3 linked regions of the Homo sapiens genome follow. The protein of the gene in region 1 purifies or fractionates together with the protein of each later gene. This does not show direct contact. Each region holds a gene or a part of one and is shown in the gene's direction. Other genes may lie near its edges.

The links.
Region 2: the proteins of ZNF331 (region 1) and LRP4 purify together in Homo sapiens (affinity purification with mass spectrometry; 2 studies listed by BioGRID and IntAct, with this or other methods). This does not show direct contact.
Region 3: the proteins of ZNF331 (region 1) and NIN purify together in Homo sapiens (affinity purification with mass spectrometry; 2 studies listed by BioGRID and IntAct, with this or other methods). This does not show direct contact.

The regions. Positions count from the first base shown.
Region 1 is NC_000019.10:53,576,003-53,579,754, forward strand, and holds part of ZNF331 (zinc finger protein 331), read left to right. Parts: intron 1-694; coding exon 695-1,950; 3' UTR 1,951-3,752. UniProt on the Homo sapiens protein: May be involved in transcriptional regulation. May play a role in spermatogenesis.
Region 2 is NC_000011.10:46,911,875-46,915,626, reverse strand, and holds part of LRP4 (low-density lipoprotein receptor-related protein 4 precursor), read left to right. Parts: intron 1-3,752. UniProt on the Homo sapiens protein: Mediates SOST-dependent inhibition of bone formation. Functions as a specific facilitator of SOST-mediated inhibition of Wnt signaling.
Region 3 is NC_000014.9:50,754,447-50,758,198, reverse strand, and holds part of NIN (ninein), read left to right. Parts: coding exon 1-1,707; intron 1,708-3,331; coding exon 3,332-3,457; intron 3,458-3,566; coding exon 3,567-3,636; intron 3,637-3,752. UniProt on the Homo sapiens protein: Centrosomal protein required in the positioning and anchorage of the microtubule minus-end in epithelial cells. May also act as a centrosome maturation factor.

The DNA.
Region 1 (3,752 bases):
AGACAGAGTTTCATGCTTGTTGCCCAGGCTACAGTGCAATGGCATGATCTCGGCTCACTGCAACCTCTGCTTCCCAGGTTCAAGCAATTTCCCTGCCTCAGCCTCCCGAGTAGCTGGGATTACAGTCATGCGCCACCATGTCCGGCTAATTTTGTATTTTTAGTAGAGACAAGGTTTCTCCATGTTGGTCAAGCTGGTCTCGGACTCCCGACCTCAGGTGATCTGCCTGCCTTGGCCTCCCAAAGTGCTGGGATTACAGGCGTGATGAGCCACCACTCCCGGCCCTTTACCAGTTACTTTTAATAATACTACTGACATATACGTGTATCAGTTTCAGAATGCTTTACACACAGCCATCCAACTGCATATTGTTTTGTTACAGTACTTCTATATTTGGTTTTCCAAGTATATCATCACATCATCTACAAATACTTGTTTTCATCTTCAAAATAGGAAATAATAGGACTAATTGTCGGGACCTTTTTCATGTCTGACTTTAAAATAGATGTCTCCAATGAATTCTCAGTTAGTATTGTACCAGAAGTAGAATCTACATTTTAACAAGAGCCCTGGGTGATTCACATTTATTCTACTGGATAATTTTTATTTCTATTAGACGAGTTTTTGGTTTGTGGTTAGGTTCGTTTGTACTTGTGTCCCTCTAAAGGAAAGAAAATATGTTCTTTTTTCCCAGATTTGGAGTCAGCATATGAAAATAAGAGTTTACCTACAGAAAAAAACATTCATGAAATAAGGGCTTCCAAAAGGAATTCAGATAGAAGAAGTAAATCCCTTGGCCGTAACTGGATATGTGAAGGTACGCTTGAAAGACCACAGCGCTCCAGAGGGAGGTATGTCAATCAGATGATCATCAATTATGTCAAAAGACCTGCTACTAGAGAAGGCACCCCTCCTAGAACACATCAGAGACATCATAAGGAGAATTCCTTTGAATGTAAGGACTGTGGGAAGGCCTTTAGTCGTGGCTATCAACTTAGTCAACATCAGAAAATCCATACTGGTGAGAAACCTTATGAATGTAAAGAATGTAAGAAGGCCTTCCGTTGGGGCAATCAGCTTACTCAACATCAAAAAATTCATACTGGGGAGAAGCCCTACGAATGTAAAGACTGTGGGAAGGCTTTTCGATGGGGCTCAAGCCTCGTTATTCATAAGAGGATTCATACTGGTGAAAAACCCTATGAATGTAAAGACTGTGGAAAGGCCTTTCGGCGTGGTGATGAGCTCACTCAGCACCAGAGATTCCACACTGGGGAGAAAGACTACGAATGCAAAGACTGTGGGAAGACCTTTAGCCGTGTGTATAAACTTATTCAGCACAAGAGAATTCATAGTGGGGAGAAGCCTTACGAGTGTAAAGACTGTGGGAAGGCTTTTATTTGTGGTTCAAGCCTCATTCAGCATAAAAGAATTCACACAGGTGAGAAACCCTATGAATGTCAAGAATGTGGGAAGGCCTTTACTCGAGTCAATTACCTTACTCAGCATCAGAAGATCCACACCGGTGAGAAGCCTCACGAATGTAAGGAGTGTGGGAAGGCCTTTCGCTGGGGTTCGAGCCTCGTTAAGCACGAGAGGATACATACGGGCGAGAAGCCGTACAAGTGCACAGAATGTGGGAAGGCCTTCAATTGTGGCTATCACCTCACTCAGCACGAGAGAATCCACACAGGCGAAACCCCGTATAAATGTAAGGAGTGTGGGAAGGCTTTCATTTATGGATCGAGCCTCGTGAAACATGAGAGAATTCATACCGGGGTGAAACCCTATGGGTGTACAGAATGTGGGAAGAGCTTTAGTCACGGCCATCAGCTTACACAACATCAGAAAACGCACAGTGGGGCGAAATCCTACGAATGTAAGGAGTGCGGGAAGGCATGTAACCACCTAAACCATCTCCGAGAACATCAGAGGATCCACAACAGTTGAAGAGCCTTTTGAACGCAGTAGCCCGCTCGTATCTATGGTTTCGCTTTCCACAGTTTGTTACCTGCAGTCAACTGCAGTTCAAAAATATTAAATGGAAAATTCCAGAAATAAAGAATTTTAAGTCTCAAATGGTGTGCCCTTCTGAGTAGCGTGATGAAATCTCTCGCTGTCCGGCTCCAGCCGGCCGGGGATGTGAGTCATCCCTTGGTCCAGCACATCCACGCTGTATACGCCACCCACCCTGCTAGTGACTTAGTAGCCGTCTTGGTGATCAGATCAACTATCCCAGCATCACAGTGCCTGTGCCCAAGCAGTCCTCACTTTGCTTAACAGTGGCCCCAGAGAGCAGGAGTAGTGATGCTGGTGATTCGGATATGCCAAAGAGAAGCCACAAAGTGCTTCCTTTTAAATGAAAAGGTGAAAGTTCTCAACTTAAAAAAGAAAAGAAAAAAATCATATACTGAGGTTGCTAAGATCTACATGACAATAAGATATTTTGGGAGAGAGATACGTTCACATAATTTTATTACATATATTGTTACAATTGTTCTATTTTGTTAGTTACTGTTGGTAATCTCTTACTGTGCCTAATTTATAAATTAAACTTTAGATATGTATGTACAGGAAAAAATGTAGTATATAGTATCGTATATATGTACAGGAAAAAAACGTACTATCTGTGGTTTCAGGTGTCCACTGCGGGTCTTCAAACGTACCCCCCTCAGGTGAGAGGGGACTGCTGTACAAAGAATATAGGAAGGCCTCTAGACTACATCCATTCCTTCCTCAACAGGAGGAAAATTCCTGGTACAGTTTAACGTAAGGCTTCACTGATCACTGTTGTTTTTGTTTTTGTTTTTGTTTTTTTGAGACAGAGTCTCACTCTTGCCCAGGCTGGAGTGCAGTGGCACGGTCTTGGCTCACTGCAACCTCCACCTCCCAGGTTCCAGCAATTCTCCTGCCTCAGCCTCCCCAGTAGCTGGGATTACAGACATGCACCACCACACCTGGCTAATTTTTGTATTTTTAGTAGAGACAGTTTTCACCATGTTGTCCAGGCTGGTCTCAACTCCTGACCTCAGGTGATCCACCCACCTTGCCCTCCCAAAGTGCTAGGATTACAGGCGTGAGCCACTGCACCTAGCCCACTGATCACTCTTCTGCTTACAGAATATCAGAAGTCATTCTAGAGGCAAATTTGAAGAGTGGAAAAATCACTTTTTCTGAATGATCTTGTTTTTGGTGTAGATGTTTTTATTGTGTGGGTTAGTTTAATGAATACATAAAGACTACCAGTACCATTCTGTCTTTACTCCGTGGCATCTGTGGAATAACCCTGCTAATGTAACACGTGAGAAAGCCTTTGGTCATGCCACCCACTCTACCAGTTGTCCCCACCATCCCCCGCCCTCCTCCCTGTGAGACACTGGGCCAAAGGCTCACTACCCCTGTGCGTTGTCCAGCACACAGACACTATGTGCATTATTTGTACATAAGGATAATCACATCTACCTGAGACTGCTATCATGGAAATTAAATGTTTGGTACATGTAAAGTCTTTGAAAGTGTAACTGGAATATTGTGTAATTTTAATAAATAATAACTATTGTTGTTTTTATGATCATTACTACCATTTGTGTTGCCATTAGTGAATTTTTACAAGAAAACTCCCTGTGGGTGCAATGAGTCTGGAAAAGACCATTGAGTCTTCTAGAAGAAAACATTAAGAGATTATTGGCACAGCCGTGGGTTACGCAATGATTTCTTAGTACACAAAACACAGCAAACATAAAAAGTTGTTA
Region 2 (3,752 bases), on another chromosome or scaffold:
AGTTGCAATGAGCCAAGATCACTCCCCTGCACTCTAGCCGGGGCGACAGAGTGAGACTCTATCTTAATAAATAAATAAAGTTTAAGGTGCTTATTTGGATGCTGCTAGTCCTTGGGGCTTTTCCTAGAGCCTATTGGTTTGGACTCAGCCCACATAACTCTCCAACCTTAAAGATTTTGGAAGGAAACTTGATGGCTGGTAATAGCCCTGAGTGATTTTCATCCTGAAGTTTGAAGTAAGGGCATGGATGACAACCATTGGAAGAGTGGAAAGTGTGTTTGTTCTAGAGGTCTCATCCAGGTAAGGGAAATGTTAAAACTTCTGCCTAGGCGTGCTTGGGTAGATAGAAGGTTGTATCTGAAAATAAGTGCAGAGCAATTGAGCTGAGACTGGTCTCCTTTCCATCTCGCTGTTGTCGTGACCAGGGTTGTCATGGTGCTTGAGTGACCTTGTCCCTGATCTGTTGGGCTTGTGAAACATACTTGGCTTGTCACTGATTTTGGATTTCCTCTTCTGTACCCTGATGAATATCAGATAACATCTTTTGGACTGGCACGTGGTATTAAGAATGACAGGTGCAAGGGAACCAAGTCTGGCCATGTCTGATACAGAGCACGTTGGGTATGTCCATCTTCTGGGCCAGCAAAGAACACAGGAGGTCACAGAGGACACGGTGTTTTATAGCTCTTTGCTCACTCTTTCTACCGATTAACTGCCAGTCTTAACTGTTAGAAGGAAAATAGGAGAAATTGTTTATGTTGCTGCCCCTTTAAAGAAAAAAAAAATACTGGGGGTTCCTGAATAGGAACAGAATTTCAGGGACTACTTTAAGAAGTAATCTTGTCTTTTTTATGATTGGGTAAGATTACGAGACAGTCTGTGCCCTTGGTTGACTAGGTCTGTTAGCCTGTTCCAGCCATGGTCTCTCTACATTCCTTGATGCAGCTTAGCCACGAGTTTTGTCACAGTTGCCTGGACATGGGGCATCTGGGCCCCAGACTGTGTCTGGACTGCCATCTCATCTTCAGCAGCGGAAGCCCTCCTCCCCTCCTCAGCCTGTGAGGATTCAGTGTCCCAGGGAAGACTCAGTGCTGACTGGTTAGCTGGCAGAGCCTGAGTTTGACCTTATAAATAGTTCTGATGACTGCATGGGCTTGTCACTCTCACTCCAGCTTAGAGCTGGCAGGAATGAGTTCCTCGTACAATCGGGAGCATTCCTCAAACTAGGCTCCACACCCATTCACTTGTTCATTCATTCAGCAAACACACATATGTCAAGCATTAATATAATCACTGTATACGAAGCTCAGCAATTAAGAAGCACCCACAGACCTGGGTTTGAATCTTGGCTCTGGCAATTCTTGGTGACCCTGTGCAAAATCTCCCTGAACCTCAGGGTTGTTACCTGCAAAGGCGGGTAGGGTAGGGGAAGGGAAGTAGTAATAGATTATCACATAGGAATATCATAAAATTTACCTGAGATAATAGCATGTTCAAACTATGCAGCACAGAGCTTGGCAACTACTGTGTTACTGTAGAGCTTGATAAAAGTTAGCTGTAAGCAAAGTCACCTAAGTGGATCCGAGATGATTCTTGGCTTTAGAACATGGGAGCCAGGTAAATAATTATGCTACCGTGTTCTGTGCTAAAATTGAGACTTGGTCCTTCATTCATTGCAGCTGGTCTTTTGCTTGTCTCTTTTAAAGATCTGCCCCTTCTTTCTCCCCTTGAAAACGTGATAGAACCGAAGCATAGTTCCCACTTGTGCCCACTCCTAGAAAAGAAGTCTGCTAAGCTATAACATCAGTCTAGGGGAACTCATGTCGCCTTAGTTCTCTTGAGAGAGGTCTGGGGAAATGGAGCTTTTCCTCTGAGAGTTTCCCTTCTTAAGTGGTCAGGGATGCAGCCTAGCAACTTCTCCTGCTAAGATTCCTGTGACATGGGGTGAGAGGGGCTGGCCAGGGACTCTTGTAGCTGGAACAGTTTAGAATTCCAAGCCCTCCCTCCCATTGGCCTGAGAAAGGAGTCAGGCTCCAGAGCTCATAAGGTAGTAATTGCCCCAATTTGGGAGCTGGGCTGTTGTGGAGCCTTCGCAGCTACCATTTTCAATCAGGAAGCCTGTCAGCTTGCAGGCCTAATTGATGTGGGTCTCCAGCCCCGAATAGCCCCCAACCCCTAGTTCCTCCACCTCAAAGTTTGACCCCTGTTGTCTCTTTTGTTTCTTCTTTTTAAGTTGGTGCCAGTGATGTGATTTTTGGGAGCTGCGGAAAGTTGACCGTAACCAAGAGCAGCTGTTAAAAAGAGCCAATTCTCTAGCTTCCTGACGGTTGTCTGCCTCCATTTTCTGTTGTGCGTTTTTGATTTAGCAAGAAGCAAACATCCTAGGTGCCCTTGGGCGCCTCTTACGCCCATCCAAGCAGACTTCATTCTTTCACTGCTCGTAGGCATTCCCATTCTTGCTCACAGATGAGCGGACTGGCTGTTAGCGCTCCCTGACACCCTGTTTCCCCATGCGGAATAGGACTCCCCCATCATTCAGGTTCGAATGAGGGGAGGGGCGCTGTCTGGGACCCAACTGGGGATAGCCTGGCTGGGACTTGCTGCAAGCCCTGACTTGGCCTATGGGAGCTCCCCCTCACCTCTATGCACAGCTGAGGATCAGAGCGGCAAGCAGAGCCGGAAACAAAAGACTGGGAGCAAACCTCCCATCTAGCTGAGAGGCAGTGACACAGAGGTGCTGCTGCATAATTTATCACCGGAGGTTTTCTGGAGCCGGGAAGCTCCTGGCTCCAGGCAGTGCCTTTTTGCGGGAGAGGGACCCTCCCTCTGTCTGGGTGTAGGGCAGAGCAGGTACAGAGAAGGGTATCCAGAGAGACACCTGATTAGCATGTGAAATAAAGAAGCTGCAAGGTTGTAAGTGCCTCCAGGGATCTCTCCAAGCTCGGCAGCTCCACTTCCTGTCACGCCTTGGGGGAGGTGGGGAGGGGTAGTGGCCTGCAACCACGCGCTGGCATGGATGAGGACAAGAGACAGCTTCTCTGTTGAGTTGACTGTAGCCTCCTTCTAACCAAGTGGAGAGGCCAGGTTATGGCATCCACAAGCCTAGCAAATAGGAAAGGGGAGCCCCAGGTTTTCCACCCTCCTTCCACGGGCAGTTTAAACAATAAGTTTCAACTACAGGCTCCCAGAGCCAATAAAAGCCAACAACTCTACAATGTATCTTCCCCAAATGAGAATTTCTGCTCTTCTAGGAATGATCTCCTCCAATGACAATTTTTGCAAATTGTGGGATATGTGGATTTACAAATTGGGATATGTGGTTTAAAAAATCCAAATGTATTTCTGGAGCAGTTAGCATTTTTGAGAGCTTTGCTGTGTCCCTGGTACTGTGATAAGCATTTAGTATATGATATCATATTTATTCCTCACAATATCCTTATGAGGTAGGTAACATTAGATTCCCGTCTTACATTGGCCAGGTGCGATGGCTAACGCCTGTAATCCCAGCACTTTGGGAGGCTGGGGTGGGTGGATCACTTGACGTCAGGAGTTCGAGACCAACCTGGCCAACATGGTGAAACCCCATGTCTACTAAAAATACAAAAATTAGCTGACGTGGTGGCACATGCCTATAGTCTCAGCTACTCAGGAGGCTGAGGCTGAGGCTGAGGTGGGAGAATCGCTTGAACCTGGGAGGCAGAGGTTGCAGCGAGCCAAGACTGTGCCACTGCACTCCAGGCTGAGCGACAGAG
Region 3 (3,752 bases), on another chromosome or scaffold:
CAAAAGGGAACTGAGGGAGCGTGAGGAGGTCCTGTGCCAGGCAGGGGCTTCGGAGCAGCTGGCCAGCCAGCGGCTGGAAAGACTAGAAATGGAACATGACCAGGAAAGGCAGGAAATGATGTCCAAGCTTCTAGCCATGGAGAACATTCACAAAGCGACCTGTGAGACAGCAGATCGAGAAAGAGCCGAGATGAGCACAGAAATCTCCAGACTTCAGAGTAAAATAAAGGAAATGCAGCAGGCAACATCTCCTCTCTCAATGCTTCAGAGTGGTTGCCAGGTGATAGGAGAGGAGGAGGTGGAAGGAGATGGAGCCCTGTCCCTGCTTCAGCAAGGGGAGCAGCTGTTGGAAGAAAATGGGGACGTCCTCTTAAGCCTGCAGAGAGCTCATGAACAGGCAGTGAAGGAAAATGTGAAAATGGCTACTGAAATTTCTAGATTGCAACAGAGGCTACAAAAGTTAGAGCCAGGGTTAGTAATGTCTTCTTGTTTGGATGAGCCAGCTACTGAGTTTTTTGGAAATACTGCGGAACAAACAGAGCAGTTTTTACAGCAAAACCGAACGAAGCAAGTAGAAGGTGTGACCAGGCGGCATGTCCTAAGTGACCTGGAAGATGATGAGGTCCGGGACCTGGGAAGTACAGGGACGAGCTCTGTTCAGAGACAGGAAGTCAAAATAGAGGAGTCTGAAGCTTCAGTAGAGGGTTTTTCTGAGCTTGAAAACAGTGAAGAGACCAGGACTGAATCCTGGGAGCTGAAGAATCAGATTAGTCAGCTTCAGGAACAGCTAATGATGTTATGTGCGGACTGTGATCGAGCTTCTGAAAAGAAACAGGACCTACTTTTTGATGTTTCTGTGCTAAAAAAGAAACTGAAGATGCTTGAGAGAATCCCTGAGGCTTCTCCCAAATATAAGCTGTTGTATGAAGATGTGAGCCGAGAAAATGACTGCCTTCAGGAAGAGCTGAGAATGATGGAGACACGCTACGATGAGGCACTAGAAAATAACAAAGAACTCACTGCAGAGGTTTTCAGGTTGCAGGATGAGCTGAAGAAAATGGAGGAAGTCACTGAAACATTCCTCAGCCTGGAAAAGAGTTACGATGAGGTCAAAATAGAAAATGAGGGGCTGAATGTTCTGGTTTTGAGACTTCAAGGCAAGATTGAGAAGCTTCAGGAAAGCGTGGTCCAGCGGTGTGACTGCTGCTTATGGGAAGCCAGTTTAGAGAACCTGGAAATCGAACCTGATGGAAATATACTCCAGCTCAATCAGACACTGGAAGAGTGTGTGCCCAGGGTTAGGAGTGTACATCATGTCATAGAGGAATGTAAGCAAGAAAACCAGTACCTTGAGGGGAACACACAGCTCTTGGAAAAAGTAAAAGCACATGAAATTGCCTGGTTACATGGAACAATTCAGACACATCAAGAAAGGCCAAGAGTACAGAATCAAGTTATACTGGAGGAAAACACTACTCTCCTAGGCTTTCAAGACAAACATTTTCAGCATCAGGCCACCATAGCAGAGTTAGAACTGGAGAAAACAAAGTTACAGGAGCTGACTAGGAAGTTGAAGGAGAGAGTCACTATTTTAGTTAAGCAAAAAGATGTACTTTCTCACGGAGAAAAGGAGGAAGAGCTGAAGGCAATGATGCATGACTTGCAGATCACGTGCAGTGAGATGCAGCAAAAAGTTGAACTTCTGAGGTAATGTATGTACCTTCTAGACGTCACGAATCCCACAGAGCACCTCACCAGATCTAACTTCCACTGCTTGCCGTGCCTAGAGAAACTAACCTAGTAGTCTTCACGAAGAGAGCAGTACTCTCTAGACTTCCTTCTGCTTCTGTGCCGTATTAACAAATAAAATAACCTTGTTTAGGAGGCATTCCCTTCCGCTGTAGCAAACAAGTGTTCATATGGGGTGTGAAAGTTCACAATGGCGAGTGTTTGCTGTTTAACCATGTGCATCCTCAATGTACCTCTTTAACTTTTTTCTAGCACTTATTTCATTTAGATGGATAGGGGATTTTTTTTTTTTATTTTGCTAAGTGTTACTTTCCTCATTTTGAGGAAACATGTTATATACAAATGAATGATTTTTTGTGTATTATTAACTTAGTAGATAAGAACTCACTTCTTATGCTAATATAGAAAAAATGTTCTGTCTTTATAGTTTTGTACTCATATCACTTGAAGCACATGCTGATAACCCATAAACAGTGCAAATGGTCAGGCACCATGGCTTAAATGCCTGCAATCTCAACTGTTTGGGAGGCCAAGGCAAGAGGATTTCTTGAGGCCAGGAGTTTCCAGGCAAGCCTAGGGAACATAGCAAGACTGCCTCTACAGAAAAATAAAAAAATGTTTGCTGGGCGTGGTGGTGCACACCTGTGGTCCCAGCTACTTGGGAGGCCGAGGTGGGAGGGTTGCTTGAGCTTGAGAGGTCAAAGCTGCAGTGAGCCATGATCATGCCATTGTACTCCAGACTGGGTGACAGAGTGAGACCCTGTCTCTTTTAAAAAAAAAAAAAAAAAAAAAAAAAAAAAAGAGACAAAACAAACAGTGGAAATTTATCTTAGAACATATAATTTGAGGAGCCTCCAGATTCTAATAAATATGCTTGAAAAGCAGAGATACAAGTAGAATTAATTTGAACCACTGCCCACTTGACATTGTAAAATATAATTGCATAGTCTTCTAGCAAATTTGGTTTTTCAAAAAAAAAAAAAACTTGTAAACTATTACAGGACGTCTGAAATGTCTCTGAAATAATTTAATTCTGAATGTAGTTTTTCCTCTTCTTCAGACCATTTTTAGTCCTAAAAATCAGAATATAATGAGATGAATAAAATCACAAAGTAAACAGTGTACATATTTCATTGTGGCCCTTTGATTTCAATAGAGAATTTTCTTTCCCTAGGTACCCAGGGGCCTAAAACTAAGCTAATATAGCTTTGTAACATGGCTTATGTGTATTCAGAACAGGTAGGACTTGAGACTGAGATAAATGAAGACATTTGCTCAAAGCAGTATGCTTGCCATTGAGAAAAATCAACAACCAGAATGAGCATTGAGTCTTGATTCATTTCTCCAGGCTTAAGGGTTTTTTAGCTACACTTCTCTAACATCTTTTAGTGAAATTCTTACTTCCCAAAAGAAATGTGTCAATATGTCATAACTCGATTTCCAAATACTAAGAGACTACTAATTTAGACTTTTCTTTTTAACTGGCATTGAATACTCATCCTTTTGGAAGTTACTAGAAAATATTTTCCAAAGATGCCAGATGACTGCCTTGTAACAATTTTTTTCAATCTCTGTGCTTCAGATATGAATCTGAAAAGCTTCAACAGGAAAATTCTATTTTGAGAAATGAAATTACTACTTTAAATGAAGAAGATAGCATTTCTAACCTGAAATTAGGGACATTAAATGGATCTCAGGAAGAAATGTGGTAAGACGTATACTTACATTTTCCTAAGACATTTTTGCAAAGACTAAAATTCTTTTACTTCAGCTTTTAAAGCCTAACCATTAAATTTTATTTTCATCATTCCTTTTAGGCAAAAAACGGAAACTGTAAAACAAGAAAATGCTGCAGTTCAGAAGATGGTTGAAAATTTAAAGAAACAGGTAAGGAAATACTTAATATTTCTCAATGTTTTTTGATTCCAAAATTTTCCCATTTTTTGAAATTTATAAATTTACAGCACACGGTAATGAATAGCATATAGCTAATGATGGTAAGG